Linked DNA regions of Homo sapiens: region 2 is reported to be linked to region 1. The links are microRNA targets in miRTarBase. Many come from high-throughput screens and were not tested one by one. Region 1 holds a microRNA gene; the other region holds the end of a gene's coding sequence.
What was found. Region 1 holds the annotated microRNA hsa-miR-154-3p (AAUCAUACACGGUUGACCUAUU, at 3,108-3,129, shown strand). A microRNA usually pairs through its seed, bases 2 to 8, with sites in the 3' UTR of a target mRNA and lowers its output. Matches are read on the target gene's strand: a 7mer-m8 pairs with bases 2 to 8, a 7mer-A1 pairs with bases 2 to 7 and ends in A, and an 8mer does both.

Region 1 (4,400 bases):
TGGAGGCCACAGCAAATTTAAGAACAGAAGACAGTTGCATTTTCAATTTCTTGTTTTTCTTTTCAAAAAGGATAATTATTCTACCTTATTACCATATTTATGAAAATGACACATGCTTAATAAAATTCAAGCGATGTGGAAAAATCTAAATGAAAAAGAAGGAAAATTGCCCAATTCTCTGGCACCCAGAAATAACCATTAAGGGCTTTAGAAATTTCATACACCTGTCTGAGCATACATGCAAATAGAAAAACAAGACAGACGCAGGGAAAATATGAGATCACACTGTACCTAATCATTTTATTAAAAATGCTAACTATAATTTTCCTTGAATTTATCATAAAAAACAAGCTAAAGGAGATTGAAATGATTGATAAATGTTTCTCGCTTTACCACCACAGGTAGCAACTCCTAAAAGATCCCTGTAAAATTAAGAAAAATTAGAGTGTAAAAATTAAGTGGTTAGGATTGTTATGGTTTTTAACTATTTCAATTTCACTCCTAGTTCAGAAAGATAAAGAAGTCAGCATTCTTATTCTTCCTTTGCTTACTATCTCCTGCTTTTTCTCAATTATACATTTTAATTTTACATTATAAATATCTGCAATTTGTTCTAGAACTATAATTCTTGCAGGTGTTTTGCCATAGTTCTATATTTAAATGAATTCATTTCTGACCACAAGGTTTGTTTTTTTTTAACTGAGGTTTCTCCGTTCTTTAGTTTTTAAGTTTAATTTATCTCTCAATGGAAATGATCTTATTGTTTCTGTGAGAATAGCTCATAGACACTACCCTTGAGTTCCTGTGCATTTGAGAGTATATATCTCTTTATGCACAAGGGACAGCTTAACTAGGTATAAAAGTCTCAGCCTACTTGTTTTTTCTCAGAAATTTATAGCTATTGTCCACTGTTTTTTGCATTGAGGCTTTCACTAGCTGTCTTAATGTGGCTTCTCCATGTAGCTCTTACTTACCTGGACTATTTTATCTAGCGATCTTCACAAACCTTGTTGGAAAGACTTTGAGGTACTATGTTCTGTGAGGTATTTCGTCTCTGAGAATGTCTGACCATTGCTCTTACACCTTTTCCCATCTGTCCATTTTTTTTTCATTCTGTTCTATTTGGCCTTTATGATTTCAAGTTTTTAAAATTTCTTTAGTCACTTTAAAGATATTTATTGTATAATTTCTTTCAGCTTTAGGGATACAAGCCCCTTTCTTTGTTGAATCTATTGACTCTCATGATGGTGCTTTTCTTCATGGTTTTTGTAGCTTTGTGTTGTGAGGTTATCATCAGTTGAGCACTTAGGTGTTTCTGTTTTGTTTCAATCCCTATGCACATGAGTTTGCATTTGGTTCTGCCTGGTACCCCAAGGAATTTACCAGTTGGTACCAGTTTTTCAACTCATTTTGTTGGCTTAAGGATTCCCAGACATATGGCTGGCAGAAGTCCTCACCATATCTTTGTCCTGAACCTTTGGTATCTCACAGGAGACCTCATTCTATCCACTCCCTAAAAATGACAAATTCTCTTATCCCTGGCCATTATAAAATTTTCTGGTTCCCCTTTCCATTCCCAGATCAACTTCTCCTGGATGCACGGTCATGTCTTTTCATCCTGCTTGTACTTGAACTTGACTGTAGACCCTTGGAGCCTCTAGCCAGCACAGCATCCCTTAGATCCCTTAGTGGCAGGTTGCATGAACTAATTCTTTTCATTAACACCTGAGGGTTTTGCCTTTCAGCTGTATGTTTATTTGGGAATTGATTTTGCCTGCTGTTGCATTTTATCCAACACTTCTCAATGTTTGTGGAGGAGAGGGTTCCCTATCAGTGCTTGTTGCTGGGATGGAGCCTTTGAGCTGAATGATGGGTGAACTTGGCATGACATTCTTGGCTCCCAGTTTCTTCCCTCTGAACTTTGTAAACTTGCCTCCATTGCTTTCTGGTGTTAAACCATTGCTGTGGACAAGCCTGGGGACAGCTGCTTTCCCTTGGATGGATGAACTTTTTTTTTTTCCTGCTTAGATTTCCTGATTCTTTCTTTAGTCTTGAACGTTGGTGACTTTACCGGGTTATGACTCAGTCACTATTTTTATTCATTAGTTTTTCTGAATCATAATATGCCTTCTTGATGAGTAGATTTAATCGTTCCTTTGTTTCAAGGATTTATTCATTTTATGAGCACTTTTCTACTCCAGGTGTTGGTTTTTTCTTTGGTGAAATAATCTGTTTTGTTCATTTCATTGTGTACTGGAGGAGAAGAAAGTCTGTCATCTGGCCCCTTGCTGCCATCTGTCTGCACGTCAGTCTGTTGTCATTTGCACTGTGCATTTGTCTATTTAAAACAATCCTACCCAGATGCCCCCTCCTCAGTGTCACCTTCCACCCTGGCAGGATGCCTTATGGCAATGCCACTTCTGAGATGGTCGTGGGAGTCAGCACCACTGGCCAGGTATGTGAATTTTCTGCTAACAATGGAAGAGTTTGAAAAACCATATATGAAGTACCATTAACCCCAAGCATGCAATCTATCCTTAGGAAGACTTCCTGGAAATTATGCTCACCTTTGGGGATGAGGCCATGATTCTGAGGTCAGTGCCATGCCATGGTCTAATAAAGTTTGCATTCAATGCTGTTTGTTTCTGTATGATCAATATTGTAAAGTCAGTCTCTTTGTCATGGACTCAGCTTTGGAGGGTTCCTGGACACAAGGCCTGTGTAAGGAAAGGATCATTACTGTCAGCCTCGATGCTAATGTGAGATGAGGGAATGTGCCCTGCTCTGATCCAAATGCTGAGTTTCTGTGCACTTGGCCTCTCCACCATCAGGTTCCCTGGCAGTGCTCCTTTAGACATGCACCCACCTTGGCAAAGGCATTGAGGTCTGGATGGCTGCAGGGTCCGGGATGGAATGGTTGAATACAGGGCGTGTGCTTTCTTCTCAACCCTCTTGCAGTCCGTCTGCTAACCGTCAATGTTCACTGTCTCCTAGGGGGACTTCCTGGAGGAGGCCAACTTTGGAGAACAGGCATTGACATTGGGTCTGCGCTAGCGTGTGGTACTTGAAGATAGGTTATCCGTGTTGCCTTCGCTTTATTTGTGACGAATCATACACGGTTGACCTATTTTTCAGTACCAAATCCCGCCTTGGAGGGCTTCCTGGAGCGGAGTCTTACTTCAGGGTGTCAGCTCCTCTCCAGGGTAAGGAAGGGGACCATTGACCATAGCCGACCCAGCAGTGTGCCCTGGCCCTAACCCTGTGTGTGCCCCGTCCTTGGGGAGGTTTCTAGAGATGGTGCCACCTTTGGGGAAGAAGTGGAGCTTTTCCTATCAGAGCTACTCTGTGGTACTGGTGGAGAGGTCTTCCATGATGCATTCGATTTATTTTTTGACCAATCCTACATAGTGGACTCTTTTGAAAGCATTAAATCTAGCCTTAAAGCACCCTCGGGTGGTGCCGAGTTTAGGAACTAGAACTGGTGTCTGAATGCCTGAACGCACGGCGAAGCTGACAGTGTGCACACTCTTCTTGGTGGGTCGTGCACCTGCAGGCGTCCTGCTTGCTTACCATGGCAGTTTCCTCGAAAGAGGCGGCAGTTCCCTCATCGGCTCACTGCATGTTTGACAAGACACCGTCTTGCTGTCTTCCCTGCTGCCCTCTCTTCATGTATCACAGATGGTGCTCTGCAGACCTCTCTGCTGTGGCACTTCCCTCCCTGAATGGCTTCCTGCAAGAGGTGCTAATTGCAAGTAAGGGATGGAGTGCGGCCCGGACCGCAGAGCTTATTTCGTGGGTGGTGTGTTGCCACCTTCCTGACTCTCAGTATCCCGTCCGTCCTCAGGCCTGCTGCTGGGACGCGCTGGAAGCGAGCACCCAAGTCAGGTACTCGAATGGAGGTTGTCCATGGTGTGTTCATTTTATTTATGATGAGTATTACATGGCCAATCTCCTTTCGGTACTCAATTCTTCTTGGGAAACGTCACGAGGGGAAAGCCCAGCCGGCACCTGCGCAGGGTAAGGAAGTGGATCACCTCCGCATGACAGGTGCTCTCTGTGTGACTTACATCACTTGGCTCATATCCCGGCCATCATTAGGAGGAATTCCCCGAAATGATGCTGACGTTTTAGTTGACATGGTGGTCTTCTAGTCGCATCCTTGAAGACTCGTCAGTGAATAAACCACATTTAGTCAACCTTTTTAGGTGTGAAATCATCTTGGCTGTGTGGCACACTTTAGGGAAAGGAACTCCTGGCTGAATGGAAGACATCCACATTACGCCCTCAAATACCTTATCTTCTGGGTGACCTCTGGGAAGCAAGGGGTGAAGGGGGTTTCCTCAGCAGTGAGAATTAATGTTGTTTAAAGACACATTTCCATGGCACGACTCGGTTATTCC
Region 2 (4,400 bases), not on the chromosome of region 1:
TGGTCTGCATTGCATAAAATGGAGTTCTTGAGGTCAATATAAATAAGGATAGTTGTAAATTAAATATTGAGTCAACATAACAGAATGCAATCTGCACATGATTGAGCTCCCATGTAACTATATTTCACTTGATACTTTTATGAAAACATATATATTCCAAATCCTTCAAAATGAAAAGAAGCTCAAACAGTTGTGAAAATTTAGAATTCTTAGATTTTAATGGGTCTGTCTTTGTTCAGGGGCAAAGACTCAAATGAGCTTTAAGATCAATTAAAGATGTCTGGAAATGAAGAACTTCATTATACCATTAAATTCAGTTATTTTTCACTATTAGGCTTATTAAGCTTGAAGCTTTAGGAAATCTCTTGGGAAGAGTGAGTGGAAAAAACAGGAGTAAGAAAAGGAAGAAAAAGCCTTTGAGTCTAATCTACTCTACCAGGTTCCAGGAAGAATATAATTCTACAGAGAAAATTCTTCATAATCTATCATAATATATTTCAGTGTCTGATGGCTGACTCTTGTCTTGCATAAAGATATCTTCAGTGGATATTAAGTAAATATTAAAAATATATTTCAGATTCATTCTTTGAAGGATTGCATCTCATGCATCCACAAATTTTAATGTTGAGTTTTGGAAAATTGCCTCCAGAGATATCTACTGTGTTTAATCTTAGATTTTTTTTTTATTTTAATAAACCAAAGATAAACTGAACATTTAAGACATAATCAGATTTTTAGTGAATTTTTAAGTCCTCCAGAAAAGTCTATGACTTAATAAATATTAGCAAGTTTCCAAAAATATAACAAATGTTTATAAATACGTGTGCACTGCAGTGCAATGGTGTCCCCAGAGAAATAAAATGCATAACAAAGCAAATGTTATGTTGTAGTGTATGTATGGCACATTTATAAATCATTACATACTTTAGGGCACAAAAATGCTGCAGTACTAAAAGTGTTGTTCAAGTTCTCAATTCTGTTAACAATTTAAAATTTCATTAATTGTGTTTAATATCAATGAATCTCAAAAGGCTCCTGTGGCCATATTAGTTGAAAATAGACTCTATTTGCATACATTATTTAACCTAAGAGTACCCTGTGTTCCCTTACCATTTAATTAATTCTAACTAGTCAAATATTAATTCTCATCTCACAAATCATTACACAGGAAGATATCAATTATTCAAGTAAAATACAAGCCCTACAATCTTTAAAAATTAGCTTTTTAAGTAAAAACAAAAAAGATAAGCACAAGACTTTGCAAGCATAACCACAATCATCGTCTAACACTGAGTTGCCTACAAGGAAGTTTGTCCCTTCCTATGGTAACAGCCTTGGTCCACTATAAAGTTAGTGCAAACAAGTGAGGGTATAAAAAAAATATAAACTCTGGATTTTTAAGGATTTCATTTTGTTATACTCTTTTTGGATAATTCATTCCATACGGAAATTTGTTTATTGTTCATAAATATCATAATGTTCATTTCAAAAATTGTCATCATCTTAATGGCTATCTTACACTTTTTTCTTTTGGAGGGTTGTCAGGCATCCATCCATTTTCCTTTTTAAGAAGAACGTTATGTGTATTAGGCTACTAAACCCAATTTTTACATTATTTTTAGTGATCAAAGGTTTCTTATACAAGTGACTCACAGTACTGAATTATGTCAATCTCTCATTTGAGGAAGGAAATGCAGTTCAAGTTAGCATTGAAAGTGCTTGGCTGTAGAGGACATCTAACAGAGCTGCTGTGTTTATTGGCTCCAGAACAACTTATTATAGGTTTTTCAGTTCTCTTTAGGGTAGAATATGAGATGGGGTTAGTCTTCATCAAAATGCAGTATCTAGTACTTTAACTCAAGTGCTGGAAGACAGCAAATCTTGGAAGTTTATTATAAAAAAAAAGATATTTCGGATAGATTCCTTTGTTGTCATGGGCAAAACTGTATATCCACACAGGACTGTTAGACTCCTAGCCAATAAAATCAGACTAAGTCCATAGGGATAAGGTAAGTGTAAATAAATTTCCATTGGGGAAGACAGGGCTCATGGCCCGTGTATCAAGGTCTCAAGCTGAGCACTGGAGAACTCCAGGGAACACTGTTCATACAGGCTATGGTGCGAAGGAATTCCCCTGTAGGTATGCCATACTTCAGTCTCTTAAGAAGCTGATTAGCATGAAAGACTGGAAGCTGATTATGGACAATTCAGTTTGAATTATTCCTTTCTATTTTGCTTTGAACTTTCCTCATACACTTAAGACATGAGTAAATCACATTGAAAAACATTTGCCAATTGAATATTTTAAAGATTCAAGAGGTAGCATGATATTGTGCAATGAACACTGGCCTGACAATGAGAAGATAAAAACTCCTTTCCAATGTGGCCACTTTATCACTTGAGTGTTTTCTGAGAAATCGTTTAAGTTTTCTGAGGCTCAGTTCCCTAACTCACTAAAAAGGAGAATTAGCAGCCTGGCATGGTGGCTCATGCCTGTAATCCCAACACTCTGGGAGGCCGAGGAGGGTAGATCACCTGAGGTCAGGAGTTTGAGATCAACCTGTCCAACATGGCAAAACCCCGTCTCTACTAAAAATACAAAAATTAGCTGGGCACGGTGGTGGATGCCTGTAATCCCAGCTACTCAGGAGGCTGAGGCAGGAGAACTGCTTGAACCCGGGAGGCAGAGGTTGCAGTGAACCCTAATTGCGCCATTGCACTTCAGCCTGGGTGACAAGAGTGAAACTCCGTCTCAAAAAAAAAAAAAAAAAAAAAAAAAGCTTATTTCTAAGATATCATCTATTCTCCAATTTTGTACTTTTATGAATTCTGGCAAGAAGGGTTGGAGTGATTCTGGGAAAGAACATCCTTAGGCTGCCTTGAAGGGAGAAGATAATATAGCTTTTCATTTAAAAAATGCTGATATCTACTTGCAATCAAAATCTAAGAAAACATTCAAAATGTGGTACTTTGCTTGAGGCAGAATTTCTAACTATCTTGTGAATTAATGATAAGATAAATGAAATGGCCAAACAATCCCTTCAGTTTACCAGGTAAGAGGATACAAAACTCCACACTTGTGCACAATGAAGCTATTCAGGTTTTGATGATACTTTACAGTGTCCCCTATTAACATTCAGCTTTTAAAACTAGTATTCTGATAAAGTGACATTGTATTATTAGTTTTTTATGGCAGTAGTAACTTAGCACTTAATTAATCCAGTCATCTGTGACATACATAAACTTATCCTGTAAAAAAGAAAACAAAACATAAAGGCAAAGAGGAGAGAATGCTGGAATTAGTATCCATCTTGCAAAAATAAGCAAACCATAAACACACATGCATAAAACTACACACTTTAAAAAGCAATAATCTTTTAAGATTAAGGTTGTATCTGTTCACCTCTTGAAAGAGTGAAACACGAATCATTTATTCATCTAGCTGTTCTTGTCTATTCAACCACCAACTGTTGAAGTGTTTGGCAACCTTAGAATATACTTGCCAGATTATTTTTTTCCTCACATGTCCAGTGCAGGGATTACTGTACCCTTGTAGTGACACAATGCTAAACTCTCTCACAGCATTGTTCTCTCTGGGAAGCGTAGGGATAACAGGTACCTGTAAAGTGTAATCAGTGCTCTTCAGAGGATCTACATTCTATGCTGATCTAAATAAGTTATATATTACAGTAAAGTGCTACAACGACACTAGTCTCAAACAGTAGTAAGACACATTTTTCTCTGAAAAAGTCAGCAGCTATGTGAGTCACATCATGATGAGGATACTTGTCAGTCTTCGTTCGAGTGTACAACCAGCAACTGGCATGACCGTGAGCAATTTGTCTCCTCCTGTGACTTTTAAAATTATAATCTTTAGGAGCAATTATTAACAATTCCAGTTTCCCATTAAGTGTTTAAAAATCTTTTTTTAGAAGTTGCACCTGAAAGTTTCATGAGCATTTAATTTGCTGATATCCATTTTTATTTCTTCAGGCTTCTCACGTCGGTAGGTGACTGCTCTTGTGCAAACACTTTGCAGAATCAACTTATCCTTAATAGAGAAGAAATATTATTATTAACTAAGGGCCTAAATATTGTAACTAGGCAATAACATACTGTTAGCAGTTCTTTTTTAGAATTCACTGACCTTTTTTGAGGCTGACACTCTGTAATCTGATGAGGACTTAATTTTATTACTATTCCATTGTAGTATCACCTGTCTAATGATCAGGACTTTAAGCAACCCAATCAAGAATGTAACTATGAAAATGATGAAAAATATTCTCAAGTAGCTTGGGCTGGAGAAACATTCTGTAATGAAGCAAACAAATAAATGGATTAAAAATTGGAATAAGTAAATCAAAGAGTCTATCAAGTAAATAATGTTCACACTTCAATTA

Region 2: the mRNA of ITGB8 is a reported target of hsa-miR-154-3p. Seed matches in the 3' UTR shown: 7mer-A1 at 1,470-1,476 and 7mer-A1 at 484-490.

The regions. Positions count from the first base shown.
Region 1 is chr14:101,056,698-101,061,097 of GRCh38, forward strand. It overlaps MIR154 (microRNA 154), which reads left to right and starts at 3,058; the gene lies at 3,058-3,141. MIR496 (microRNA 496) reads left to right here and starts at 3,876; the gene lies at 3,876-3,977.
Region 2 is chr7:20,409,526-20,413,925 of GRCh38, reverse strand. ITGB8 (integrin subunit beta 8) reads right to left here. Exons shown (of 14, transcript NM_002214.3): 13 at 4,148-4,311; 14 at 1-4,051. The coding sequence ends at 3,929. Among named protein-coding and RNA genes, the nearest start is that of ITGB8-AS1, 80 kb to the right of the region's middle.